Linked DNA regions of Homo sapiens. The protein of the gene in region 3 interacts with the protein of the main gene of each other region in a biochemical or structural test. Each region holds a gene or a part of one and is shown on either strand. Other genes may lie near its edges.

Region 1 (6,131 bases), on a different chromosome or scaffold from region 3:
CTATCTCCAACTATCTCCTATTGGTTTTGTTTCTCTGGAGAACCCTAATATAGGAGTCCTGAAGGTAAACTTAGCCAAGCAACAAACATAAATTGAGACTGCAATATACCTCTTTAAAACCCAGTTAAGGCATGGCAAAGTTGAAGGCATTGGCCCCGAATGCAAATTGTGTCTTTCGCTAAGTTAAGAGTATTAATATCCATCACACAAGCTTGCTGGGGGCTCAAATTAGATGACATATAAAACATTGGGCAAATTGCTAAAAAAACTTTGTTATTAATTATAACTTTTATCTGAAGCAACTCATAAATGGTGATGACCTTAGCAGAAATATCCTAAGTGACTTTGTAATAATTTTAAAGTGGGAGACCATTACCCCCCACAAACACATACAAACACATACACACACTATGCACATGCTCATTACATACAAATACATAGACATACACAGACTCTGACACATAAACACCTGTTTTGGGAAAAAATAATAAAGCTGACTGTTTAACCGTTAAACATTTTTATTGTGCAGGCTTGTAACCTTTACAGGACATGCATGATAAAAAATTGTAAAATATATCAGTAAGCATATAAAATTTCAGCAATCTTTTGGACCAGTAATTGATTTGCATGAGGGACTAAGCATCTATGTAGAACAGACATGTCTTGGAATACACAGTTTACAGATTGAATCACAAAGCCATTTCCTAAGTGATTTTCTTCATATAAAGATAAAAATATCTTTACATTTAAAAAGTATGCAGTATAGCACATTTTCAGTTATGTACACAGTTTAAAAGTAAAACTATATCCATGCCAGTGTCTGTTTTAAATGCAAAAAGTCAAAGTAGGTAACAGGTTGGTAATTAAAGTGTCAGGAAGACTGGAAGAGGCAAAAATCAAGCAGAGTTCCAATAAGTGTATGAAAAAAAAATCATAACTGAAGGTTTAAGAAAAGTCCCCAAAGGCAGAATCACAATATGAGCAGGAGGAATAAAAAGCTTTTGGATATACCAGGCAGCTTTCTGTACGACTCAGGTTTACAGGTGAAATTCCTCAGTTTGAGTTCAGAAGAATTTGAACTTATTCCAGCAAAATACTTCAATCTTTTTATTACTGCCTCCTCCCCCATCTTCTTTCTGGGCAAAGGGATGCTTGGATTAGGTCCAAAGCTCCTGGCAGGGGGAGGGGCCATGTGTCACAGCATAACAGACGGTTGCAAGTGCTTTACTGAGCAGGGGTCAGGTTTGCAGCAACTCTGATAGGCTCACACAATGGCCTCCATTTTACAGCCCCTCCTTGGAGGCCCACTGATCAGCTGAAATGGGAACACAATGTTGAGCCACTAAACCACCCCGGTGATGGATTAGTTTGGATTCAGGAAAGCGTGATTATTCTTGAAAATAAACGAAGCTGAATAGACATGCTGACCTCATTCAGTTGATGAGAGGCAGGGAAAGCTGGCTTCCAGGACTGCCAGCCCACAGAGAGCTCAGCCCTATTGGTCCACTTTAATTCATTTCATTGGGCTAGTGTCAACCATACCCACTACGGATAAAGATGTTGCCAGATGAAGCCCAGAAGTGAGCTTCACCAGACTCTGTAGCTCAGAGTCAGAAACACGCATGGAAAACTAGGTCATGGATATTCTAATTTTGGTCTTCAGGGAGGCTGCTGACCTAAAGCGAGTTGCTGAGTTAGACCCTATTTGAAAAGGAAAATGTGAAAAACAGGAAGGCACTGAGGTCTTGTTATCTACATAACAAATATTCAGGCACAGAAAATATCATAGGTTAAAATTTCAAGAAGAGTAAGGCATTAGTTGGATCATGAGAAGGCAGAAGATTATGTTTTCTAACTTGTAAGGATCACTGGATCCTACTGGATTATGAAGTGAATGGCAGTAATCCACTAACTCCTTAAACAGTGGGAAAAGAGTTTGCTGAAAATCTGCCCACATACTTGTACACTCCATGGCCATACCCTGGAATTCTTCCCTTAACATAAAATGACCAACATTTTGGAGTAGGCAGTTGAGGTTGTTGGTTCTTTTCTTTTTTTTTTTTTTCCTCCTCAGTTCTTCATATTTCTCTCAAATTACCTTTCAACAATATGTTCATATCTCAGCCAATAAAGCGATGGTTGATCCACATGCAAATAAAAAGGTAAGGAAAAAAATTTAAATGGGTTTTAAAAATTCAGACTGCCAAAAATAGATGAAATAGCTCAGAAGAGACATAATACTTATGAAAACTGAGAAAGTGATCTTTTTATTTTCAACCAAGATAATTCAATTCATAAATTGTTGCTGTATTAGCAACTTGGAACTTGAAATTGGCACCAGGAAAATTAAAAGGAAAAAAAATCAGGTATACTTCTATCCTTGAAATGTCATTTATATTTCTTTCTGCAAGTTGATGCGGACATTGCTGAATATTTTCCCAACAGCTTCAAAGAGTGGGTCACAGACGGTGTGGACGTAGATGGAATAGACACGGCTGATGCACTGAATCTCAATCAGGAAGCTCTTAATGCATGGTACAACTGCCCAGATGTGCAGGAAAGAGAGAATGGCGAAGTAAATGCCCCAGATGAGTGCCATCGGGATGCCAAAGAGGGCAGACAGCAAGCGGTAAAACCAGTATTTCGTCACAGTGAAGGTGGTGAAGCTGGCCTTCCAAATGCCGTCAAAACTGTGTGTCCCTTCTGGTTCTGCAATCACATCTTCAAAGTCAATCTAAAAGGAAGAAGTGACACAACATGAGCACAGAATAGAAGAAAAGAGAAAAAAAACCCACTATTCAGTATCCATAGACATATACTGTATTAGCATTTATGAGTTCGTTCTTTGTGAGATGCTTAAAGGCAACCAGCAGCATCAGCATCACTTGGAACTTGGGAACACAGATTTTTTTCATTTTTATTTTTTTGAGACAGGGTCTTGCTCTGTCACCCAGGCTGGAGTGCAGTGGCATGATCATGGCTCACTGCAGCTTCGACTTCCCAGGCTCAAGCAATCTGTCTGCCTCAGCCTCTTAAGTAGCTGGGACCACAGGTTCATGCCACCACACTTGGCTAATCCTTTTTTTTTTTTTTTTTAAGAGATGGAGTCTCACGATATTGCCCAGGCTGGTCTTGAACGCCTGAGATCAAGGAATCCACCCACCTTGGCCTTCTGAGGAGTTGGTATAATAGGATGAGCCAATAAGCTGACCTGAAACACAGATATTTGGGTTCCCCTTGGACCTTATTATCTCTCAAGGGTGGAACCCAGGATATTTTTAAACATGTTCTCTAGGTGTTTCTCTACCACACAAAAGGTTGAGAACTACAGCTCTAGAGAAAACCAAATGGATGTGATTAAATTTCTTGACTTAAAGTAAAACCCCCAAACATGGATAAGGATACGAGGCACTCAGTACAATGTAAGGAACATGACATAATTTAACTGCCTTTGAAGACAACTACACATGCAATGTTAAGGGGCAGTTAGTTGATAATCGGTTAACAATTCTTCAAATGCCCAATTAGCATAATTACTTCAGGAAATTAGATCATGGTGTGCTGGGAGGCATCAAGAAGGCTTCATGAGGTGGGAGATTTGAGCAGGGCTTGGGCAATTGGCTGATTTGGAGAGGAAGAACAATGGGACGTTGGAAATGTGTCAAAGCCCCAGGAACAAGCAAGGGTGTCATAGTAAGTGTCTCAGGCAGAATAGACCTGTGTCACCGAGGCTGGAAAGACAGGTTGAGGCCAGACTGAATATTATTTTACAGACAGTGGGGTCTATGGAAGATGTGGGAGCAGGGGAGTGTAGCCACAATCGATGCAGTAGTTTATCAAGATGAGTTTGACAACCGTATGCACACTGGGAGAAGGAGGAAAGAGACTCAAGGCAGGGAGACTGTTGCTGTCACTCAAGTTTGAAGGGCCAGGACTGGAAAGGTGGTCATAAAAAAAAGAAAAGAAAAGAAGGTTCCAGAGATGCTAAGGGAAGAATCCACAGGACTTGGTTAGCTCAAGGGTGGGGATGAAAGGAGCTGGAATGCAAATTTGGCCCCTTTCCCAATAGCTCTCCCAGGTACATGTTCACCCAAACAATTAATTACAGGAAGTTTTATCCCTCTGTAAAGATTTATATAAACTACACTGAAGCACAGGATTAAAAACAGAATTACCAACAGAAAGGTAGGACAGAGCCAGTGCAACTGCTTGGCAGTGACAGCTATAGGAGGGGATTTAATGCAGTTTGAAATCCCAACAAGTGGATGACTGACAGCAGCGACTCAGGCAGGCTCAGGATTAGGGAATGAGGACTGCCATGACTCCACGGAGCTACTCAGTGCCAAAGAGCCACCTTTGATTCAACAAAATAAAATGTCTTCTGGAAAAAGCACATGATGCTTACCAATTTTTAAAGTTTATTTTGTAGAACATTCTGTTTCTTGACTTATTGTCCAATGTTCTAATAATGTAATGTGAAAAAAACGGCATGGCCACAATTATGTAAGTGAGCTTAAGTAGATGTATTGTCACTCATTTTTCTTCACCCATTTGGATCTAGACACAGGGTAAACATTTAGTTGTGTGTTTTAAAAGGTGGCAAATACATGGCAAATCAGGTCAATACTTTTATGAAGTTTCTGTGCAAATTATTTGTCTATTATGGGTTTGTGTTCTGACACTGCATTCTTCCCAAAACTATCAAAAATAAGGGGCTCTGGTTTTCCTGCATTCAACTGCAAGACACCTAAAGAATTTTATTTTTTAAAGATGTCTTTGTTTTGTAAGAGGATTTGAAGGCAGAATTAAAATACTACAGCAGGTGTTCTTAATCTGGGGTCAAAAGATGGGCAATGGTCATCCATGACTGCCCTGAAATGGACACACATTTTGAGTGTATAATGGGAAATGATCCATCACCTTTATTAAAAAATAGTCTATTACCAAAGAAGGTTAGGAAGCAATTTACCGGGAGCAGAGGATTCCTACCTCTTTACAGAGCAGACCCGAAGCAGGTCTGCCTTGAGATTCTTTTCCTAGGAGGGGAAGAGTTGTGAACATTTGTTGACTAGTTGTGATCAGACACTGTTCTCATTTAACTGACAACAACTCTATAATATAGTATTCTCACTTTATAGAAAAAATGTGAGGTTCAGAAATGCTAATGAGTTGTCCAGGTAAAAGAGAGGTAGATTTGAGGCTTAAATCTGGTCTGAAAGTTATCAACTTTCTTCAATATTGTACCACTTTACAAAAATGGTTTTCAAATTTTATCTAAGGTGAGTATGCTATTTCATAATTAAAAGGCACGTTAATAAAAAAGAGTTTGCCAAATTTAACCCTCTGGTAACTGCAACAATTCTCCCGGCATGTTCTTTGAGGACAGTGTTACACCATATACACAATTGGTCCTTAGTGAAGATATTTAAAAACATGAGTGTGTAAGATTTCTTAATAATAATTCTATTTTTCTAAGCATAAATTCAAATTATTTTTCAATGAATACATAGGAGATTCTTACACTTTCTTTTAAGTTGCTTACTAAATTTCTGGATGCCTGCATTTTCAGTGAAACTGCATTTTCAGAAACTGCTAGTGAGCATGATTTATCCTCAAACGTCCAAGTGAATTTAGAGCAGGTCTCCAGGGGTGGAAAGCAACATGACAAAAATAACATGTTATATAAATATATTCAGTTAGTTATTGCTGCTTTAGTCTTTGAAATTTAAGGCAGTTTTAAAGAAAACTAAAAGTACAGCCAATTAGGTGCAACTGAAAAAGGAAGCAAGGCAGGTTAAAGAAACAATAGAGGCAGAAATAAAGCTTAGTTTCTTTCTACCTCCATTTACACAGCAGTAATTAGTTTTAGAGGAGTACATGAGATAATTTATTTAAATTACTTAGCTTGGGTGCAGAGCATAGCAATATGATTAGTAAATGCCCAAAAAATAGTAGCATTTAAAAAATCTCTTGCTTTTGGTGACTAGGTCTTTCTCTCTCTCTCTCTCTCTTCCTTCCTTCCTTCCTTTTTCTTTCTCTCCTCTCCCTCCCTCCCTCCCTTCTTTCTTTCTTTCTCTTTCTTTCTTTCTTTCTTTCTTTCTTTCTTTCTTTCTTTCTTTCTTTCTTTCTTT
Region 2 (7,761 bases), on a different chromosome or scaffold from region 3:
CAAACCCCTTCTTCTGGCCAAAGTAGGGGGTGTCAGGCTCAGGGTGGGTCTAAAGGTGATGTGCAGATTGTAACTGGCACCCGTGGCATTGGCTGGGCCTTCCTCGGAGGGTAGCAACTTGATAACTTCAAAATGTCTGGGGGCCGCTGGGAAGGCCAGAGGGCCTGATCTGGGCTGGAGGATGAGAGACGGAAACGGGGTGGGGAGTATCCCGTCTGACAATTTGGCAACACAGACAACAGTGATGGAGCCAGAACTGGGTGTCTAGGCAGACTGAGCCCGGCGGGGGGGTGGGGGAAGAGGCTGGTGTGGGAAGACAGGGTTCTCAGGGCGAAGGCCAACCAGCACCCAGAGACAGGAGGGGCAGGCTGCATGCTCCCCTTTCACTCCTCCCACAAAACATCAGCTTCCACCTACTCTGTGCCAGGCCCTGGGCCAATCGCTCACTGTCTGAAGTGGGTAAGAGAAGAACAGATTCAGTTCCTGGACCTCAAGTAGTGGGGAGAGGACTTCCAGCCTCCAAGGACTGACTATGTGAGGAGGGAAGGGACACTGCCTAGGCCTTGAGAAATGGGGAACAGATGGACATCAGAAAGGAGACTGCAGAGGGTATCCCAGGCCCAGGGACCCACACAGACAAGGCAGAGCAATGTGCTTTCAGGACAGTCCATGTGCCAGGAGCCATGGGTGTGGTGGGAAATGTAGACTGAGGCAGGACCATGAAGGGCACTGAATGCCAGGGTACAGGGAGCCGAGGCTTTAACTTGTAGGAACTGGGGTCCATCAGGGGCTCCCAGGCAGAGGCAGGAGCAGGAAGTGCCAATCTAAGGGGAAGAGCAGCATGGCTTGGAGGGGCCAAGTCTATTATCAGAGAGAGAGTGTCAGAGAGCCAGAGGCCAGCAGGAATGAAAGACCCTGGGGAGGAGGCAGGAGGGAGGCCAGAGCTGGGATCAAGCAGCCATGCACTTTAGCCTTCTCCCGGTCTCCATTGCCACCACCCTCGCCCCTGCCACCCTCATCCTGTGGCCTCATCAGGCCTCCCTGCAGTTTTTCTGTCCCCAGAGGCCCAAGTGACCGTTCTAAACTAATCACATCATGGCAGTCCCTTGCTTACAGTCTCTCGTGGCCATGATAACAACGTTTTGCCCTGGCCTGCAAAGGGCCCTCGTGAACTGTCTCCTGCCCATCGCTCTGACCTCACCTCCTACCACTACTTCCTGCCCTGCCCCCAGCTCACCCCAGGGCCTTTGCACCTGGCTTTTCTGCAGCCCTGCCCCCCTCTTATTACTCAGGGATGAGGCATTCTCTTCAGGGAGCCACTGGATGTCAACTCGCACTGCTGAAATGCTCTGTATCACCATCAGGAGATCAGGAACCATTCTTTCCTGTTCACTGTGAAACCCCAGCATCTGCAGGATGCCTGGCACATAGTAAGTGGACACAAAATATTTTTCAAATGGCCACAATCCAAATATGCCACGACCCTGGGCAAGTTATCCAACCCTGGCCTTTCTTCTGATACCAGCCAGTGGTTGCAAGGAAAGTGGACGGGGAAGAGAGCTGGCAAAGGTAAAACCACAAGAGTTGTGATGCAGGTGGACCTGGAACGCAACTCAACTCGGCCTTGGAGGTGCTGGAGGGAGGCGCCACAAGGGGAGGGGTGGGGCTTCAGAATCTATAAAGCTCCGTTCAAACCCCAGCTTCAGCATTTACCAGCTGCTGACCTTGGGCAAGGTACTTAGATCTCTGGGAAGCCCAGTTTCCCTTACCTGTAGAATGGGCCGAAGCATTACATGAGGAAATGGATGTTATGACATTTTACCCAGTACTTGGCATACAGAAAGTGTTCAACACCAGATAACTATTAATAATGGTAAAAAAGATAAGAAAAAGGAGGCTGTCTGCTTTCATCACTGCACTGGTCCCTGGCCTTTCAGCTGGAGCCCCCCACCTCATCAGCCCGCCCCGTGTCCCCATTTCCGGATACAGACCCAGGCTTCTATGGGCTGGCTATGTCCCCTATGACCCCTGCTGACCTCGCCCCATCTGCTGACTCATATTCTCCTGCCCAGAACCCCCCTCCCCGGGACCCGGCCCCAGCTCCACACTGTCGGGGGACCCCCAGCCCTGCAGCCCCAGAAACCCCGCCCCTTACCCACCGACGTAGAGGACGCCCTCCTTGGTCTTCTCCGCCGCCTCGGTGACCCCCTGCTTGGTTTTCTCCGCGGCTGCCACAACGCCCTCCTTGGCCATGGACAGGCCCTTCATGAACACGTCCATCCTGGCGGCCTGGGGAGGGCGATACACGGGCACCGGTGCACTGGCCCCGCACTCTCACCCCAGCCCCTCCCGCGGGACGCAGATGCCCCCCTACTCCCGAGACCGCGGCGCCCTTCTGGACCCTGAGCCCCCTCCCGCTTTCCCCCCATCCCACCCCACTCCCCAGTGCGAAGCCTCAGGGCCGCGGAGAGTCCTAGCGTCCTTGAAACCTGGGGACGCGGGAGGGGCCACTGCCTCGGTTATCCGGGCCCTGCAAACTGCAGCCCCGTCGAACCGGAGTGCTGGGTTCGGCGCGAATATCCAGGACCCGCCTGTACACGCACGGCACAGTCACACGGTCATGCACACAAACATACACCACGGACAAGCTCACGTGCACACACAGGACACGCAGACGCTCCAACGCGCACGAATACCCCGACCCACATGGGCGCGGACACACGTCCCCACAGCCGCCCGGGCAGCTGCAAACACCGGAGCATACTCACATACTCCGGGGTGCACACTGACGCGCATCCCCCGGGTCTCCCTCCATTTTCCATCCCCTTCCCCAGCTCCCTCCTGTCGCCCCAGTCCCCTCTCCATCCTCATCCCGTTCCCCATCCCCGGCGCGCGGCCGCCTCACCTGGATGCGGGGCCGGGGCTGGGGATGGAGCGGCGGCTGCGGCGGGCGGACGCGGGGGCTCCGCTAGGCCAGGCCGGGGTGGACCAGGGGCCGGAGGGGGGATAGGGCCGGGATCAGGCGCTCGGGTCGCGGGTCCTGAGCAGGAGCGCAGCAGTGCCCGGGTCTCGGGTGCGTAGCCAGCCACCGCTCGTTCCTCGCGCCCTGCGAGCTCGCGCGCTCCGGCTCCGGCTCCGGCTCCGGCGCTGCGGCAGCTCTGAGCTCAGCGCCCCCGCTGGCGGCCGCGCCGCCCCTTCGGCCTGACTGACAGGGGGCGGGGAGGGTGACAGCGCGTAGCCGATGAGCCTCCCGGGGCGGGCCCGGGACGCGCCCCTGGGGGCCCCGGCCGTAAGACTCGCGTAGTCTGTTGGGAGTTGAGGGAGGGGGACAACGCGGCGTGTGAAGAGTGGGGAAGAAATCACGCGACTGGATTTGGAGTTCTGCTGGGCTCGAATCTCAGCTGTGCTTTTTATTAACCGTGGGACCTTGAGCTACTCGGCTCTCCTTTCTGAATGACAGTTTCCTCCTCTGTAAAACAGGAATGGTTAATTCAACGAATGTTTACTGAGCGCTTAGTCCAGTGGTGCAGGTTTAAGGCTGGAGGCAGCGGAAAAGGAAAACAAGGTTCCTGGTCTCGGGAAGCTTACCATGGGGGTGTCTGTACGCGTGTGTGTTCGTGCGCTCAGTGGTGGAAGACAGGACAGAAAATAAACGGATCAACATCCAAAGCAACAAGGTCATTACAGCTTGTAAGTTGTGAAGGTAACGGTGATGTAACACGGGGACTAGAGGAGGGGTGCTTGAGACAGGGTGCTCAGGGAAGGCCTCTACCAGCAGGTGAATTGTAGCAGAGACTCCAGAGAGGCACCATGACACCACGATGGGTGAGGACAAGATCCATAGAGAGTGCAAGTGCAAAGGCTCCAAGGCAGGACTGTGCTGACAAAAGACAGCGCAGCTGGAGAGCCAGGATGGAGGGAGGTGGAGAACAAAACCACTTTTTTGTGTGCTTACGGTGGGGACTGTCAAAATGATCACAGAATGCCAGGCACACAGTAGGCCCTCAGTTGGTTCTATGATAGAATTATGCCCAAGAAGCTGTAGTATCCCAGAGGAAAGGGACTCTGACAACTTAGGGGAGTCAGGAAAGGACATAAAAAAGAGGTGACAACTGAACTGTGGCCTGACAGGAAGGGGACTATTTCATCGAGCAGGCTAGGGAGAAAGAGAATTTTAGGCTGTGGGTACAGCATGGGCAAAGGCACTGTGGCCAGAAATGCAGGGTGTGTAAGTGACAGGTAATTAGGCGAGGGGGCCACCAGCAGCCAGACTGCAAAAAAAAAAAAAAAGGAAAAAACCCAACCAACCAAACAAAAAACATTCACAGGCCGCTGGTAGAACTGCAAATTGGCGCAGACATTTTGGAAGGCAATCTGGCAATGTTTACCAAGCATAAATGCATGCGCCTTTGGAGCCAACAGCTCCCCTTCCAGGAATTGATCCCGTGCGACTCTAGCCATACATGCACACAAAGATACCTGTGCAAGGATGTTCACTGTAGCATGTTTTTTTGTAGCAAAAAACTGAAAATGATCTAAATGATCATCTGTACAGGACTGGCTAGCTAACTGTGGCACATCCACCCAGTGCAATGCCACACTATGGTTGGCAAAGATGAGCTAGACCCATGTGTGCTGACATGGGAGTGTGCCAAGATGTGGTGGTAAGTGTGAGAAGCAAGGTGCCAAACTGGAATGTGTGGAATGAGCCAATTTTGATACAAAGGGAATTATATTTTATGTATAAGTACTTATAATTTTCTATGTGTCAAATATATATTATATACTAACATATACATACTTATCACATACTATATACATTATACACAGACACCTTATATACAAACATACACATATTTATGGCTAGATATACAATTCTTTTTTCTTTCTTGTTTTTTTGAGATGGAGTCTCCCTCTGTCACCCAGGCTGGAGTGCAGTGGTGCAATCTTGGGTCACTGCAACCTCCACCTCCAGGGTTCAAGCAATTCTCCTGCCTCAGCCTCCCAAGTAGCTGGGATTACAGGCATGTGCCACCACGCCCAGCTAATTTTTGTATTTTTAGTAGAGACAGGTTTTCACCATGTTGGCCAGGCTGGTCTCGAACTCCTGACCACAAGTGATCGGCCCACCTAGGCCTCCCAAAGTGCTGGGATTATAGGCATGAGCCACCTCACCTGGCCACACCTCTGTAATAATTTCTGAGAAAACTGTTAAAGGGAGTTGCACCTAGGAAACGGGACTGAGAGGGTTCAGGGAAGGAAGTTTCACATTCCATTGCCTTCCTTACTGGTGCTGTTTGATTATTTTCCCTTGGATAGTATTTTACTTGTGTTATTTTAAGAACTAGCATGGAGGGTACCTGCAGTTATTTTTGGTCTCTCAGCATTAAAATTGCCCCCTTCCCATGTTTAGAGGGGTCCCCCACCTTCTGAGGCAGAACCCACCTTCCCCTCTGAGAGATGACTATGCCAGATAATTGCTTTCTCAGTCTTCCTTGCAGCCAGGACATGTGACTGACAGGTGCAGCTCCAGACTTGGGACCTGAAGCTAGTCCCAGGAAGCAGCAGGGAAGCAGAGGGCGGGGTGGGGGAGGGGTGTGTTCTGGTGTGGAAAAGTGGTGGTGGCAGCTCCTGCCAAGGACCATTGGCAGCAGTGACACTCACTGTGGGAGTGTCCAACACCAACAGGACAAGCTGCACTGTCCATGCCCAGCCATGGCATCGGGATTCTTCATAGGTCTGCCTGGTAGTGGGATTTGGGGCATCATTTCAGGCTGTGTGGTCTCCAGCGTGGATTTTCTAGCTATCCTGGAGATTATTTGAGCTGTCCAGTGTTTTTTTTGTTTGTTTGTTTGTTTGTTTGTTTGTTTTAAGAGATAAGGTTTCACTGTATCACCCAGGCTGGAGTGCAGTGGCACAGTCAATCATAGCTTACTGCAGCCTCGAACTCCTGGTCTCAAGTGATTCTCTCATCTCAGCCCTTTCAGTAGATGAGACTACAGGTGCGTGCCACCATGCCAGGCTAATTTAAAAAATATTTATTATTTGTTTGTGATTTACTTATTTATTTTTCGTAGAGACAGGGTATTTGTTTGTGATTTACTTATTTATTTTTTGTTGAGACAGGGTCTCACTAGGTGGCCCAGGCTGGTCTCGAACTCCTGGCCTCAAATGATCCTCCCACCTCAGCCTACCAAAGTGCTGGGATTACAGGTATGAGCTATTGTACCTGGCCCATGAGCTGCCCAGTATTTAATAAACTCCTTATTTGCTTAAATCACCCAGAAGTGATTTCTGTGGCTTGGGATTAAGAACTCCTGATGCCAGAGTACAAGATAAAGAAAGATGAAGGAGGATGGAGGAGCGGGGAGAAGGAGGAAGAGAGAAAGAAGATGAAATGAAGCGTGTCTGAACTTCAGATCACAGGAAACAAGAAGTCACTGAAGGATTTTAAGCACAAGAGACCTAATGAGATTTGCATTTTATGGGGCCAAACGGAGATGGGTTGGAGGAGGATAAGGCTGGCTGTAGAAAGATCAGTAGGAGGCTGGGGCAGACTCCAGAGGAGGGACAAGGACGCCTGAACTACAGAAGCCCGGGTGACGCTGGAGCAGGGCTGGAAGGAGAGACGTGAACATCACTTGGGAGTAACTTATTAGGTGTTATGGGAGACGGAGAAGGACAAGTTGAGGAAGATTCCCAGGTTTCTGGTTTGGACAATGGGGTGAGTGATGTTGCTGCAAAATGAAATAGGCATTGAGGGGGTGGAGCAGCTTGGTGGGGGGATGATGATGAGCTTGTCTGGGGGAATGACAGACAAGCTGGAGGAGGTGTCCAGCAGACACTAGGGTATCTGAGCCCAGAGCTCAGGAAAGCACTCCAGGCTGGCTTCAGATGCAGATTTGAGCCACGGTGTACTCAGAATTCTTTAACAAATGGCACAAATGGCTCTCCAAGGTTGGGGCGGGAAAAGGGTAGGCAGGAAGGAACACCTAGATTTGTGGTTTGCCAATGTCCTTGGGGTAAAATACTCCCACCACAGTTGATTCCAAGCTGTCAGTGTGATGTCATTGAACAGAAAATTGGTTCAGTTATCTAGAATTTTCATGAGACAGATAACGTAGATAAAAATAACCTTAAGAGCACAGATAATAGTAAAATAACTAGGAAGTTATGTGTTTTGAGTATTATCTATGTTTTTTAAACATAATGTAACTATAACTTTATATAATTTAATTTTTAACAATGTAATGGCTTTAACAACTGGCTCACACAATTCCTGAAGTTTTTTTTTTTTTCTTTTTTTTTTTTTCGAGACAGAGTCTTGCTGTGATGCCCAGGCTAGAGTGCAGTGGCGTGATGTCGGCTCACTGCAACCTCTGCCTCCTGGGTTCAAAGGATTCTCCTGCCTCAGCCTCCTGAGTAGCTGGGATTACAGGCACCCGCCACCACACCTGGCTAATTTTTGTATTTTTAGTAGAGACAGGGTTTCACCATGTTGGCCAGGCTGGTCTCGATCTCCTGACCTCATGATCCGCCCACCTCAGCCTCCCAAAGTGCTGGGATTACAGGCATGAGCCACCACGCCCAGCCAGATTCCTGAAGTTTTAACAATTGTTCTTGTGAGCCAAGTGAGATCAGTGCCCCACTGGGTTTGGAGTCATTAGCATAGAGGTGGTGGCTGGAGCCATAGGGCTGAGTGTGATCGTCCGGGGGTGCACGGAGAGTGAAAAGAAGAGAGTGCCCGGAACAGACTCCTGA
Region 3 (7,487 bases):
TATCCCGCACAGATCACCCAGCCTCTGCCTGGTCTGCATCTCTTGGGCCTCTGATCCAGCTGAGAGCTCATGATTTATAGACCATGTAGGGGACTTTCAAGGACAATTCTACCTCAGCTGGAATCTTGCCTCACACACCGACTGGGGGACCTGGGGACCTCCTGGGAAGATGCAACTCCCTGCAATGTGAGCTGCTGGGGGAGGGGCCTCTTATGTTTCTGCCTGGCCCAGAACCTGGCGTCAACAGTAGTGCTCGATGCATGCATGCTGGTCAAGATGAACTGAATGTAGTGGCCGTCAATGCTCTTGAAAGCATTCCCCATTCAGTTCTCATTTCACCCTCAAATCTCCCAGGCAGGTGGGAGGCATGAGTGTTACTGGTTTCACTGGACAGGGAGGAAACTGACGCTTAGAAGGAATCTGTCCAGGACCCCCAGACCTGGGAAAGTGCCCAAGTCTCTGGACAGCCAATGTGGGCTCCCTGGCCCACGCCTCTTCTGCACTGCCTGGCGTGAAGTTCATCTGCAGCTTAGGTGAGGAGTGGCCGGGAGGGGACCCTGGTCCCCACAAAGACACGATGTGCCCCACACTCTGCACCAGCTCACTGTGAGGCAGCACTCGGGGGCAGCCCTGGGTACCCTGTGAAGGGAGCTGCTGGGGGCTGGGGGAGGCTACTCACGTCTGGAACGAAGGGAGGGTCCAACATCCCGGCTTCTAAGCGCTTGAAGTTCATGTTCCTGAAGAAGGGGTGTCTCTTGACCTCTGCAGCCCCCTCCTCCTGGCAGCCCAGCCTCTGCTTCGCATCTTTCGTGAGCAGCTGAAACAGAGAGCCCCATGAAGCCACGTCCCCTGGGCCTCTCCTCCTGTCCGGACCTCCTGCCTCCACAGTGTCTGCACCATGCCTAGGAACCCAAGACACGCTGCCCCACCCTGCAAAGGTCTTGCTTCAGGGCTGCCTCTGAGTCTTGGCGTGCATCTGTGCTCACACACTCACAGCCTGGCTAGATGCCTGATGGGACAGGAGAGCAGGAATCTTGTTTCTCTCAGGATTACAGACCTCGTTCCTGGGTTATGGTGGGCACTCATTAATGGGTGTCGAGTCACTGTCACCTCTTCTGTGTAGGGTAAGCAACAAAAGGCAAGGACTGCATCAATAGCTCTGTCTCGTGCACATACTCAGCTAATTTGCAGAGTTGTACCTCCTGGGTGCAAGCCCCTTCCTGACAGAGAAGGCACCACCGAGGCACTTGGCCTCTAGGAGTGCTCAGACTCATGGGGGGCTAATCATGCTCAGAGGACGCATCAAGGTGATACAGATCGGGCACCCCGGGGGCAGGGGGCATGACTGGCTGCCAGCTGGAGGTCAGGGAGCTGCACGGGGAAGAGGTATTTAAGTTGAGTCTTGCAGGACAAATAGGCTTTCAAGGTGTGGGTAGGGGGAGGGGTATACAGGTAGAGGGAACTGCACCAGCAAAGCAGAGTGGCAGGACGTGCAGGGTGAGTCTGGGGAACACCCAAAACACGTTTGACTTAGAAAGCGGGAGGAGGGTGCAGAGATGGGTCAAGGGGAGGGGGCTGGTCAGGGAGAGATGATAGAGGATCCTGAAGGCCAGGTCAGGTGGCGGGATTTTCATCTGGAGGTAGAAGGAGCCAGGGATGGTTGAGGTAGGAGAGTGTCTTCATCAGAACCACGAGGCAGGAAGGTTACTAGGAGAGGAAGAGTCTTTGGGAGCAGACACCCAGGTGAGACGGGATGAGGCTATGAATGAGGCCAGAGGGCTAGACCTGCGCAGGGGGCCTTGACTAGCCATGGCCAGCCACACGACCACAGGGCCCCGGCCCCTGACCTGCACTCCCAGTGCCCCAGCCTCGTGATTCTCTCTTCTCCTCTGCCTTACTGAGCGCTGCAGCTGTACGCAGTTGGTGTCTACTAAGTGTCTGCTTTGAGGCTAAAATCCAGAGGAGCAGACTGCTTGGGGTAGGGGCCCAGCCTTGTCTTTTCCCAATGCCCTGTGCGCTTTGCTCATATTCATCCCATGTACACTTCCTGCTGGTCCTTGTGGGGCAGGCACTGCACCGGCTGGGGACGCCGGGGAGAGTGAGCAGCCAGACTGGCCTCTTGGGGCTCAGGGTCTGGAGGGGGCTGCCCCCCAAACAAAGGAATCGAAGGTGGCATCAGGGCCAGCACCAGGTTCCACCCTTGAAAGGACAAAGCAGAGCACTCAGTCGCTCAGTGTTGCCCCTTAACGCCCCCACGGACCACCAGGCTGGCGGCTCAGGGTCTGGCACTCATGCCTCTGCTTCTCTCTCTGGGGGCTTCACTGTTCAACAAAGGCTCAAGGCACTGGGTTGGGCTGGGCCCAGGTGCTGCACTGTTCTAAGCAGTCCCTCAGAGGCAAGTCTCCTTCTGCAGGGGCTGCAGCAGCTGGCCAGGAAGGTGGCACAAACGAGGATGAGAAAGGCGAGGGGTGGGCTGGGTGGGCCGGGCCGGGCTATGTGTCAGCTCCTGCCAGGTGGGACGGCAGCCAGGGCCTGGGGCTTCTGCTTTTCAAGAGAAGCCAGAAAATCCAGGTTATTACATGAAATCTCCTCATTTCTAAATCTTGGCAATGAACCTACCATTTACTTCTTTTGAAAAACCGTGTGCAGGTTGAACACCCGCCTATATGCTGCCATTTGAAACCCTGGCATCCAGTCAACAGTTTGCAGCCACATCGTCAGGTAAAGAGTTTGCAATCATGCTATCAGGTGGACACCAGGAGAAGTGAGAGGAAGAGAAGGTGTGAGCTGGGATGGGTGGGGCAGGCAGAGCGGGCTTCCTGGAGGAGGGGTACAGATGGGCTGGAAGGACAAGTGAGACCAAGACGGCTGAAAGGCAAGAGGGAGCTGGAGGGGGGCTAAGGCCCAGTGCTGGGACTGAGCAGGGGTTTGGGGAAGATGGAGGCTGAGGTCTGGGCCCATGGACTGGGCTCAGGAGACAAAGTGGTGAGATGTGTGAATTTCTGGGCTCCAGAGGAGGGGGAGTGGGTTCTGCGGCTGCTAAGGTAGAATGGGGGACAGACCTGGGGGCCAGAGACTGGCTTCCTCACTGATTGTGGAGGGACCCTCTTAGGCAGGCAGGGCTGGAGCCACCAGAGCCTAGAAATAGCCCTGTGAACCCAGGACCTGCGAGGTCTCCTGGCAAGTCAGGCTCTGCAGTGTCCTGAGCTGCCACCAGCTGGAGGGGACAAGGTAGGCCTAGATGCCGGAGATGCTGCAGTCAAGGGCGTGAAGGAGGCCTAAGACTAGACTCCCAAGACCAAAGATCATTTGTAAGGGAAGCCGCAGCAAGGCCAGAGGCTTCCAGAGGACAGTGGTTTTGTACCCACGGGACAGGTCCTCCGGGAGCAGCAGGCTTTCTCTCAGTGTCCACCAGGGGGCAGCAGAGGGACAGCAGCACCCTGGTCCAGGCTGCAGCAGGAGATCCCAGCTCCAAAGCCAGGGGCCAAGGTGGGTGTCTGGGGTCTGGGGGTGGGACTGGGGCCCTCTCCGCCTCGTCATCCTCTTAGTACGTCCCATATCCCTGCTGAGATCTCTCAAGACCTGCTTCTCTGATTGCCTGGCCCTGACCTGGGACATTTGGTGATGCTCTGCCCACGGCTGTCTGACCCCTTCTTCTTTCCCTTGTCTCGTTTTGTCGCACCTGACAGATATCTCCCAATGAGACAGCCAAGTATGGCTCACACCCACATTTCCATTTACCCGACCAGTGCTGCACTGCTCCTCCGGTCCCCCCACCCTAGCCCTGGCTGCGATGACCATGTGGCTTTCTCTGAGGCCCCAGCTGCATGGCGGGCCAACAGCTGTGGGGTTAGAGTGTGGGTCTGCTGTACACACAGGACTTCTTCCCACAGCTCTGTGATGTGAGGATGAGGTTGGTGACAGGAAGGGGCCAAGCAGAGGTGTCTGGCTGCAGGAGAGGGGCCTCTGGGGTGAGGAGCCGAGCCAGACCCTCCTGGGGCCGCTTGCGGCGCAGATCTCAGGTCTTCCTGAGCAGAAGCATTGCGACTTTTAATCAACTCCCAGGACTGCTGCTTCCTAAACTCCGGGAGTTGCCTGGGTTGTCAATGCACACGCTGAATCTGCCCCAAAAGTGCCTGCAGATGTAGAGGGGTGGGAAGTGTGGCTCCCCCCTCCCAGGCTCGGTTTGCCCATCTGTGGCTCCGGGTACATGGGATACGGGGTACATCTGTGGCTCCAGGGAGAGGAGAGGAAGTCTGTGGGCTGGCAATTGTGGAGCTGGGTGCTCCGGCCCCTCCTGTCCCTATGAGGCTGGCATTAGAGGGCAGCTGCTTGCAGTGGGGGTGCCAGCACAGCTGTGCTGGGGACCATAAGGAGGAGGGCCCCAAGGGGGCATGGGCTGGACTTGGGGGCTGAGAGCCAGGCAGCAGCAGGAAGTGGCCATCTCCCCACAAAGCCAGCCACTAGTCCTGGTTCCCAGGGAAGGGCCTGAGGGCCGGCATGGGGCGGCCCAGTGGCAGGGGTGCACGGGCGGACTCCACTCCCATATCCCCCACTTCCAATGGCTCCTGTCACTCCTTATCTGGCTTCCAGTCCCCCCATCTGGCCCCACCCACCCAGCTTTTGGGTGGGTCTGACCTCACTATCCCTAGACCCTGTCATGCAGGAGCCAGGCTGGCGTGACCAGCAGTCCATCTAGTGGTGGAAAACTTTGTTATAAGATGTTCAAAGACTGAAATCGTCGCCCCCACCCCCTGTAGCCCTTCGTCTTAAACCAACACCTTAGGATCCAGAGGTGGAGGGAGCAGGAGGCCCACGGGCAGGGGCCGGGGCTTGGCCCAAGGTTGCTTTGTGTCTGGGGCACCAGCTCAGACCATCTCTTCTCCGCCCTGTGTGGACCCCCCCACAGGCTGGATGTGAGGGTGTTCCACACTGTTCCCCTCACCCCTCTTCCCTTGGTTCCTGGGTGTCCCTGCCCCACCCAGGCTTTCTCCTGGAAGTCTCCGCTGACCACCCCAGTCCACAGCAAGGAGTGCCCTCAACTCTAGCTTGGTGGGCTGCAACCCCCACCCCCATGCTCAGACCCCTGTCCCTTCAGCCTGTTTGCTGTTCTGGGGACAGACTGGGGCCAGGCCCAGGGAGGGGAGCCACCAGCTTGAGGGTGGCATCTGGCCACCAGGAGCTCACCATCTTGCAGATGGACTTGGCCTCCTCGGAGAACTTGTGGGAGTACACCTCCTCCGTCTCCAGGACCCGGCGGTCCACCTCCTCCCGCTTCACCTTCTCCTTGCGGCCGCGGAACGGCGACTGGCCCTCGATCATCTCATAGATGAGGCAGCCAAGGCCCCAGTAGTCGGGGCTCAGGCCGTACCTCTGGTTGTTCAGGACCTCTGGAGCTGGGGGCAGAGGAGAGGAGAGAGGAGTGAGGAGGAGGGAGACAGCTGGTGGCGCTGCTCACAGAAGGCCTGGAGTTTCATGGCCGCCACCAACTCTTACCCCACCAACTGCTGTGAATACCACCCCCTCCAGGGAGCTTGCCCTGATGACTCTCCTCTGTGCCCCCGAAGGACTTTGACTGTAGCTTTAGAACTCTGACCACCGTGGATGGAGGTGTCCTGCACTCTTGATGTCCCCTCGCCTAGAACATGAGCTACTTTATTCACTACCGTAACAATATGACACCTGGCACAGAACAGGTGCTATCAGTATATTTGTTTCAATGAATAAAGGTGTATCTACCCAAATTAAAGATGATCTTAAATTTATCTGTAATTCAAACAATCTCTTGCTATGTCTTCTGTACCACTTTGATAAACCGAATTACAGATTTACCATAGAAATACAGAAAAGATAGTTCTGCAGCATCAGCACGTATGTCTGGAGGGAAATGCATCCACACATGTGCTGGTTTGCACACAAGAGCCGGGGCAGACAGATGCATGGAACACTCTGCAAAAGGAGACCCAGGCAAATGCACACACAGGTAGGCAGATCTATCATCCACCCATCCATCATCCATCATCCATCCAACCATCCATCCACCCGCCCACCCGCCTACCTATCAATCATCGATCAGCATTCATGTGGGCACACACACACTCACATACACACAGACACACACTCCACAGGTTGCCAAATGTCATGCAATCTGAAAAGGACCCTCTAGCACCAGAGACAAGGCACACCTCCTGTGCAGCTGCTGTCAGTACCAGCCTGACTAGAGGGCGGCAGCGTGCCTGCTCCCCGGGCACGCGCCTCTCAGGGGAAGGAGGGTAGGTGTGTGAAATGCACAGGAGGAAGCCCAGGGCGTGCCCCCAATTGGACGGGGGATTCTAGGGCACAGGACTTAACTCTGGGTCTCTTCCCTGCAACCCCCAGGACGCTGGTCTCAGAGCAGACTGAGGAAAGGTGGCAGGAGCCCAAGGCTGCTCTCTACTGGAATCATGCTTGGTGACACAGCAGCTGTGCGCGCCTCTCATTTGCGGGCTCTTGTGAATTACCTCCTTCCTCTCAAAGGCCTCTCCTCCCAGACCCCTGCTTCAATGTGGCCTCCCCTAGCAGCGCTGTATGCCAGGCCCCGACCCCTAAGAGTGGCTTGGCTTTGGACACAGGTGGGGCTGGGGGCCTGGGAGTGCAGAGAGCTCAGAGCAGTCATCACATCTGGGGCCCCTGTGCTCCCCCTCCCCCTGGCTAAGGCCGCCCCCCAGCAGCCCTGCAGAGACTGTGACTCTGTGTGTGATCAGCAGTGCATGAAGAGGCGAGAGGCTCTGCGGGCAGGCTCTGGGGGCTCGGCCGGCGGTGAGCAGGTGGTGGGTCTCAAGGTGCATTGACACAGGCAGCCCAGCACTCACCCATGTAGCCAACAGTGCCCACCCGGCCGCGGATCAGGTCTCCCTCGGGGATCTTCACAGCCAAGCCCAGGTCTGAGATCCTAATGTGGCCTGAGGGGGACAGCAGGGTCAGTGGGTCCCTGGGACAGCCGCATGGGCACCCGGCCTTGCTGTGTGCCCTTGGGCAAGGCATACGAGCTCTCGGCATTCTCATCTGTCCAAGGACAACAGGGACCCCAATCTGCCATCTCAGAGTGACCACAAGAGCCTTGGGAGAGTGCAGGTGTGGGAGGACACAGGAAAATGCCCACTCTTCAGGAGTGGAACATAAAGATGCAATAGGATGCCTGGACCCGGCTGGACGTTGACCGACCTGCCTAGTCAAAGGCTGAATGGGCTTCCTGGAACGCTGAGGTCAGAGAATCTTGGCTTGGTTCTGGGATTACTTCATGGGAAAAATGTGAGGTTCTTCTGGCATTATGCAACAATTTGCTTAAGGGGAAAAAATTATAAAACGATTTGGGAAGCAGCTCCCCGGCCTGCCTTGTTGGTCTCTGGAGATTGGTTGTTTTTCACTTTAGAGAAACGAGAAGGGAAAACATCTGGTCTGACCTGGCAGAGCCTGGAGATGAATCCCAGCTCACAGCCCAGGACTGA
Region 4 (7,896 bases), on a different chromosome or scaffold from region 3:
ATGCTGGAGAAAAGGGAGATAACTTACAGGGAGAGGACTTAAAGCCCCCTTTCTTTCCAATACATTCTTGGGAGAGAATGGATGACCACACATGCAGGAAATATATTCATTGGAAGGCCTGAGGGGGTGAGTTTATAGTGTGCTCACCAGGCTGAGCAAGAAAAAATAGAAGGAGCACTTGGCAGACATGGAGACAGAGACCTGAAGTCTCATCCCTAATTCTACCTTGAACTCTAATCTTAGGAATGCCATTGGTAACCTCCCTGGGCTGTATCTGCATGTTGGAAACATGGTGACATTCCCTGTCGCTGTCATTTCCTAAAGCTCTGGCATCCGAGACCTTTTGGTCTCACTGAGCAGGTATCACAGAGGGTCGGGGCTCTGCGGTGGTTTACCTAGAGAAAAACAACAACGGAGCTGAAATCTGGCTCCCTGCCCAATCCACTGTGCGGACTCTGACTCTCATCCCCACCCCTAACCTTCTAAGTTCCAGAGGAAAGATCAGGGCTGCAGAACATGTTTCTGTGTAAGCCAAAAGAGAGAGCTGTCTGCTGGTGCTCCATCAGCTACTGAATGCTCCAGCTCACACTGACTGACAGGTCTTCCTAGAGCTTGTGCAAAGCCCCAGTGCAGAAAAAGCAAACAAACAAACAAAACCCCCCAAAAAACTTGCCCTCTAATTTAGGGGGCATCAAGAGAGTGTTTGTAAGGCTGAACTGGCATCAGGTTTCACTACCCTGATATTCACTTATATATCATGCTATCGACTTTTTTAAGTTTAAGGAAGCTGTTATGAGATTAAAGGAGCATGTCAATGCAGAAAGATTTACAGGTGTACCTCACTTTCAGCAAACTGAATATCTGAAAACCAGTGTAGTACAAAAGATAAATTTGCAAAATAATTCATTTCACTCCCACTTTGAGTAATTGGTTTACCATCTACATTTAAAATACAAACTGATTTTCCACAATTTGTTTTACATAAAACATAGTAAGCACATAGGAGCTGCATATAGAGAGATGTACAGGGAACTAACAAATCAGTATTTGGACACCACTGCAAAGGATGGAAATGAAGATTTCCCTGATTTTAAAAGTGTTCATTGACTACAGGAGCTAAAAAAGACTTCTAATAATTTGCAAGTTATAAACAATCTTTATGCAAAGAGGGTTAGTAGTTTGGAATTTTTTTTGAAGTTTTCTCCTAGCTCCTTCTTTGGGTTTCTCACATTCAGTTATCTCAGGAAGGACATCAAAAGACTCCATTTTAAAATCACAGTGGTAGGTGTTTTAAGCATACTTTCACATCCCAGGTAAACATTTAACACCTGTGCACACATAGACATACACATTGGAGACCTAAGATACTCACAAAGGAGACAATACCAACAGAGCTGTGCTCCAATAATCAATTTTCCATCATGCTACCTGAAGAGCCATTCATTCCAGAATACCATCCCCAGTGTTTGAAATGCCAACCTTTTCACTTTCAGTCAGCTTTGGGAACCCTAACCTGTTGGTTGCCGGAACAGAAGAGCTCTCAAATGCCTTTGCCAAGCATGTTTCTCTGTGGATAGAGACAGGCTAAATACATACATTTTACATTGCAGGAGAAATTTAGAACACCTCTTGGGTAAGCTTCCTGGATCCCTATCCGTGGAGTTTCTTAAGGATAGCATAACTGTCTCTCATTCCTGAATGAGAATTCCTAGCATTACAGAGTAAACTGCATTAGAATTCTGAGTATCTTATGATACTGATGAAATGCTCTTTCACATCCAAAACAAACAAACAAACAAACACAAACCAACGAACCAACCAACCAAACAACAACAACAACTACAACAACAAACTGGAGAGTTGCAGTGGGAGCAGAAAGTCCCAGAATCCTCTAGGTGTACTTAAAACAGGAAGGCAACAAGAGGCTGTCTGACAGAAAAACAGGCCTGGAGGAATTTACAAAGCCCCTTCCAGGGTCTAGTCCTTTGACCAAACCCTAGGTATTGTTTGCAGCCTGCAAGGGTAAAGGGGAGAAGGAATATATGGAAAGGAGCAAAGCAGAAGTTGAAAGTGTCAGGAAGATGAGTGGAGAAGAGATGAAGAAAGGGGAGTTAAATGAAGAAAAGGGGGATGTGTGTTGAAAGGAAGAGAGAGAGTGATGGGTAAAAAAGAGGAAAAAAAGTTGAAATACATAAGATGAAGTTCCCCATCAACAAATGACTCAGTTGATCAGTAAAAAAACCCTCAGAGTGGCCAATCTTCCACTTGACCCATACCCCACCCAGTTCCAAACCTCACAGCAATGCCGTGGTCCTCTATGAGCACTTTCTCGCCTTTTCACAAAGGCTAATCTCACCTATCAAAGGCCACAGCCGTCATGGAGTAGATACTGGCGAAGACAGCGGCGATGGGAAAGAAGTTGTGGAACTTGCAGTAGAACAGGCCGTAGTACCATTCGTTGTGGACAGCATAGGTGAAGTTCACCACTGTATTGAATGCAGCCATGGAGGCCTCCGCGAAGGCCAGGTTCACCAGAAAATAGTTCGTCACTGTCCTCATTCTTTTGTGGGCTAAGATGATCCACATCACTACCACGTTGCCCACCACAGAGGTCACCACAATGACCGTGTAGGCAGCTGCCCAAAGGACAATTTGCCAGGCTGGTTGCACGAACTGATTGGGTTCCGAGGTGTTAGTGGAGATGTTTGGGGAGAGGTCTGAGTCCACCGGGAGGACGTTATCCATTTCGAAGCTAGGCGGTAAAGCCCTACTATCTGTACACAACCCCCCTCTGCAGCAGAGTCCTGTGGCTGGCGCCTGGGGCTCAGGGTCCTTCTAAAGCCAGACAGGAGGGTGGAAGGCTTTTTCTGGGCAGCACTCTTTTTGAAAGCTGAACTGGCGCTCAGAATATAAACGCTTCTGGATGCACTGCCCGCCTGCCCGCGGTGGCTCTGAATTCCTCCACTTTCAAGCTTCAGGAGACGTTTGAGTTCAGAAGTCTGGAGACAGCATCTCTCTTGCGGTAAACTGAAAAAGGGAAAGAAATTCCACCGGTCACAGTTCTAGGAAGCAAGAGATCCCCCGCATTTATGCACCTGCTGCTGCCTGCAACTCCTATTTCTCCTTCCTCCGCAGGGAAAGGCAAAGCCCTGTGCTGCGTGAGGACTTAGGAGCGAAGTGGGGGCCCATTGCAGCGCGACCTGTAAAAGTTCTGAGCCTATGGCCAGGATTCTGGAGCTTCGTATCCAGCTGGAGATTTTTCCTTCTCTTTTGCTGCCGCTGCCGCCGCCTGCAGTTTCGCGGGCACCTCTCGGTTCGGGTTGCTCAGCTCGCGAGTTAGCTGCGCACGAGGCTTTTATAACCCCCTGCAGAGACGTCACTGGGAAGGGGCAGTACCTGGGCTGCGTACTCGCCAGTCCCGGTGCGCAGCGCGGCAGCTGCGCCAGCTGTTGACAACTGTCTCATTCCACCGCCGCAGCTACCACGCCTTTTGCTGCTTGCTACTTGCCGTGGGAGTCTGCGAGCCGGGAGCCCCACGCACTCCGCGAGGGGGCAGTAGGTGGCTTGGAAGTAACTGACACAGATGCGGTCCGCAGCTGGAATCGTCGTTGCACGAGGGGTGCTGGGAGGAAGGAAGGATTTGGGAAACAGCTGGAGTGGAGGACAATCAACTTCCAGGGAATGAAGCCCAGAGCCCTGAGACAGCTCTGCAGAGGCGGCTTGCCTGTGGCAATGGGAAACGGTCATGTGTGGGGGCGATGTGCCAGCGCCGCGCTCCGGGCCGCGCTCCAGCTACCGAGAAGCCAGAGGCGACGACTCCCTGGTCCAGGTGTCCCGAAAACAACTTTCCTGAGGCTGTGTTTAGGAAACACCCCCACAAAATATCTAGCTCAGTTACCTGGCTAGCTGATTCACCTGGGAAGTGACAGTCTCTAAGCTTTGAGGACACTTTCCTCAGCCACCCTGGTGACTTGGCCCCTCGTTCCAGGAGAAGCTCCATTTGAGCCCTCCACCTGACCCCTCTGGATGAGCCTCTGCTCAATCACTGGGGACAGGGCTGAGCTCCCTGCGAATCTTGGTGAGCGCAGGAGCCACACTCATAGGCAGCTTGTCGCTCAGACGCGCGGCTCTGGGCTCTCCGCCAGCAATCACTGCGGCGCTGCGTTTGCCTCCCGGGGACCTGGCAGCCTCCGCCTCCGCGCCTGCCAAGCCTGCAGGCCAGAGCCGGGCTCGGGGTGGCATCGGTGGTCCTTCTCCCTGTTCCCCTTCCAGGTTTGCATAGGGGCTGGAGGACAGGTCAGCCAGCCTTCTCTGCCCGCCTCCATCCTGCCCTGCCGTCTTCTGACTTTGAGGCCTCGTATCCCAGTCCAAGACCATTTCAAACGGTAGAACTGGTGCCAGACACTTGGAGGAGGCAGGGCAAAGACTCGCCAGTCCGTATAAACCCTTTTGGAGAAGCCAAGATGGGATGAGCTCCGCAGCACGTTCCCGCCAGACTGCTGCAGGCAGAGTTCCGCGGAAAACTGAACCCCGGGAGTCCTCAGGGGCCCATCTACCCCGGTGCACCGCCCCCTCCTTTCACTGCGGGGACTCGGAGCTGTGGGACTGGAGCGCGCACCGGCAGACTTGCGCGCAGGTTGGAGTTGGCGCACACCCGCGCCAGCCGGGGAGCGGCGTTTACGCACTGGTACCGCGAGCGCTCAAAGCATCTCTCGGGAAGTGCTTTAAGGCTGGGAAATTTACTATACACTTATGCCGGGCAAAAATTGGATCCCACGCCGGGGAGGAGAATCTGCTGTTTCACTCTGTATTTTTTCGGAGCCTGGGATTTTAGCGTATATAGGAACCGCACATTGCTTTGCCAGGTTCTCCTAGGCACCCGTAAACACACTGCATAGAAAACTCTAGAGATGCTTTCAAGAGAACAGCGTCCCTTTATTTAGAGCGGCTGCACAAGAGGTCTTCTTTGTGGAAGGGAATGCCTCCTCCACCTTGGATCTCTGCTTGAGGCTTCCACCATCTCAAAGAGCTGACAGAGAGAGGGAGGAAAAGGGAGAGGGAAGGGGATGCGGAGGGTGGGGGAGGGGGGAGGGGAAACTTCTCTATCTTTAATTTTCCTTCCAAGCTGTTTAAAGTTATCTTTTCTTTTTTCTCCCTGTCCATTAGAGCCAGGCTGACGTTTTCAAAAGGAACTTTATTCAGTGGTTAAGGGAGAAAAAGAAAGCTAATCGAATAAAATCTAAATATGTAATAAGAGCTAAATATAAAATAAATATGAAATAGCTAAAAAGTAAACATTAATCCATTTATCCTCCATTAGTACAGCAAGTTGATATTTTGAAGCAGGTACTGTGCTGGGCACTGGGGCTGGGGGGTGAACAAGCACTTACAGTATGGAGGAAGACAAACAAGAAGCAATGAACCATACAAAATGGGCGGTATTATGATGACCAAAGGTACTAAGCCCTGAGTGAGGAGAGAAGAGGGAGGCCACCTAACCTAAACAATGAGGGGTATCCGTACAGATGGAAGAAAATCTCATCCATGAAGAAGCCTGAAGAATGAGTTAGGATGGGAAGAGGTTGAGGGTGGAAAAAAGGCGAATATTTCAGGCTGAAGTTTTATAAATCAAACCTTGTCACTCTGCTTAAAGTCCCATAATGACTGCCCACCTATGAGCCTGCAGGTCAGAGCGGGGCCCTGGGTGGCATCAGGGGTTCTTCTCCCTGCTCACCTTCCAGGTTTGCATAGGGACTGGAGCGCAGGTCAGCCCGCCTTCTCTCCCTGCCTCCATCCTGCCTAGCCCTCGGCTAACTTTGAGGCTTTGTATGCCAGTCCAAAGCCACCTCAAATGGTGGAACTGGTGCCAGGCACTGGGACACCTACGTTCCTTACCCTGGCCTTCAACTCTGATGTGTTGATGAGTCTGACTTGGGGTTGTTTTTCTTTCTACTCCGGGATTTTCATGGCTGGTAGCCATATCTTAGGAATCCTTATGACTTGCTAAAGCTAGTTTCTCTTCTTAAAAAGAAAAAGCATATTCATGATGGGTTCACCATTGAGGAAAAAAAAAAGCCTCAGCTATACAGTAGCAGAAGTTGTTTTTGGTTCATACCTATGATATGAGGAGACACTTTATCTAGCATCACCCATCTATAAAGTAATGAATTTTCCCCCTACAGCTTTGCACAAATATATAGATAAAATTCTATACATGCTATTTCCCTCCAAGAGCTGATATTCTTGTTTTCTTATCCTTTTTCCCCCTTCGTTCCTCTTTTCACTGAACATCTTCCTTGACACTCAACACAGGATCACACATCTTAAAGTAAACGCTGTTAACAATGTAGTATAAATCCTTCCTTATTTGTCCAGACTCTTTGATACTATCTAGATGGAAATACAAACATACATAATATTCACACATGTAAATGCAAATATAGGACTTTCATTGTTGTCTGTATTTTGTTTTTCCCACTCTAAACTTTGCCCAGCTGTTTCAGAGTCAACAGGTATAGATTTAACTCATTTTTCAGTGGTTAAATATTATTTCTATGTTATGGATACACCGTAATTTATACATTCAATTCTCTATTCATGAAAATTAACTTTGTTTCCAGTTTTTGTCACTAAAGGCAATTAACAATAAACATTCTCTACATCCTGGTGTTTTCTTTCTATGGGGGTAGATTCAAAGTGGAATTGCTGGGAAGTAGATTATATTTATATTCCTATGCATATGCATATATATGTTGTGAGTTTCTATTCATATTTGTTTATTTTTAAAAGTTTTAAATAAAGTTTTGTTTCTTTGAATTATTTCCTATATTTTATACAAATAACTAAGAGTCTATACCAACTTCATGTATTACTTTTTAAAGCGAAAACATGAATTATTTGCAATTTGCCCATATATTTGCACATACACAGACACCAGCATGGTTTTTAAAAAACTTTTATTTTGGGTTCAGGAGTAACGTGCAGGTTTGTTATATAGATAAATTTTGTGTCACAGGGGTTTGGTGGACAGATTATTTTGTCACCCAGGTAATAAACTTAGTATCTGATAGGTAGTTTTTTGATCCTCACCCTCCTCCCACCCTCCAGCCACAAGTAGGGCCCAGTGTCTGTTGTCCTTTCTATGTGTCCATACGTACTCAGCGTTTAGCTCTCACTTATAAGTGAGAATATGCAGTATTTTGTTTTCTGTTCCTGCTTCAGTTTGCTTAGAATAATGGCCTCCAGATCCATCCATATTGCTGCAAAGGACATGATCTTGTTCTTTTTTATGGCTGTGTAGTATTCCATTTACACGTGTATATATATACCACATTTATATATGTGGTATATATACAAATATGTACCACATTTTCTTTATGCAGTGTACTACCATTCATGGGCATTTAGGTTGAGTCCATGTCTTTTCTATTGTGAATAGTTGCTGCAATAAACATATCAGTGCATGTATCTTTATGGTAGAACAATTTGTATCCCTTTGGGTATATACCCTATAATGAGATTGCTGGGTCAAATGGTAATTCTGTTTTAAGTTCTTTGAGAAATTGCCACACTGCTTTCTACAATGGCTGAACTAATTTACATTCCCACCAGCAGTATACAAGTGTTCCCTTTTCTTTGAAACCTTACCAGCATCTGTTACTTTTTGACTTTTTAATAATAGCAATTCTGACTGATATGGGATGGTATCTCATTGAAGTTTTGATATGCATTTCTCTAATAATTAATGATAGTGAGCAATTTTTCATATGCTTCTTGGCCATGGGTATGTCTTCTTTTGAAAAGTGTTCATGTCCTTCGCTTACTTTTTAATGAGGCTGTTTATTTTTTGCTTGTTAATTTAAGTTCTTCACAGATTCTGGATATTAGACCTTTGTT

What was found.
Region 1: the proteins of GRK5 (region 3) and CAV1 form a complex in vitro, tested with the Homo sapiens proteins (one study listed by BioGRID).
Region 2: of the proteins of GRK5 (region 3) and SNCB, one has a biochemical effect on the other in vitro, tested with the Homo sapiens proteins (one study listed by BioGRID).
Region 4: of the proteins of GRK5 (region 3) and TACR1, one has a biochemical effect on the other in vitro, tested with the Homo sapiens proteins (one study listed by BioGRID).

What each region holds. Positions count from the first base shown.
Region 1 is NC_000007.14:116,555,549-116,561,679, reverse strand, and holds the end of CAV1 (caveolin-1), read right to left. Parts: intron 2,735-6,131; coding exon 2,393-2,734; 3' UTR 501-2,392; downstream 1-500. UniProt on the Homo sapiens protein: May act as a scaffolding protein within caveolar membranes. Forms a stable heterooligomeric complex with CAV2 that targets to lipid rafts and drives caveolae formation. Mediates the recruitment of CAVIN proteins (CAVIN1/2/3/4) to the caveolae.
Region 2 is NC_000005.10:176,627,375-176,635,135, forward strand, and holds the start of SNCB (beta-synuclein), read right to left. Parts: upstream 3,161-7,761; 5' UTR 2,906-3,160; intron 2,592-2,905; exon of another isoform or gene 2,435-2,591; intron 2,290-2,434; 5' UTR 2,281-2,289; coding exon 2,160-2,280; intron 2,127-2,159; exon of another isoform or gene 2,065-2,126; intron 1-2,064. UniProt on the Homo sapiens protein: Non-amyloid component of senile plaques found in Alzheimer disease. Could act as a regulator of SNCA aggregation process. Protects neurons from staurosporine and 6-hydroxy dopamine (6OHDA)-stimulated caspase activation in a p53/TP53-dependent manner.
Region 3 is NC_000010.11:119,441,453-119,448,939, reverse strand, and holds part of GRK5 (G protein-coupled receptor kinase 5), read right to left. Parts: intron 6,942-7,487; coding exon 6,852-6,941; intron 5,397-6,851; coding exon 5,188-5,396; intron 818-5,187; coding exon 680-817; intron 1-679. UniProt on the Homo sapiens protein: Serine/threonine kinase that phosphorylates preferentially the activated forms of a variety of G-protein-coupled receptors (GPCRs).
Region 4 is NC_000002.12:75,196,190-75,204,085, forward strand, and holds the start of TACR1 (substance-P receptor), read right to left. Parts: upstream 3,332-7,896; 5' UTR 2,746-3,331; coding exon 2,357-2,745; intron 1-2,356. UniProt on the Homo sapiens protein: This is a receptor for the tachykinin neuropeptide substance P. It is probably associated with G proteins that activate a phosphatidylinositol-calcium second messenger system.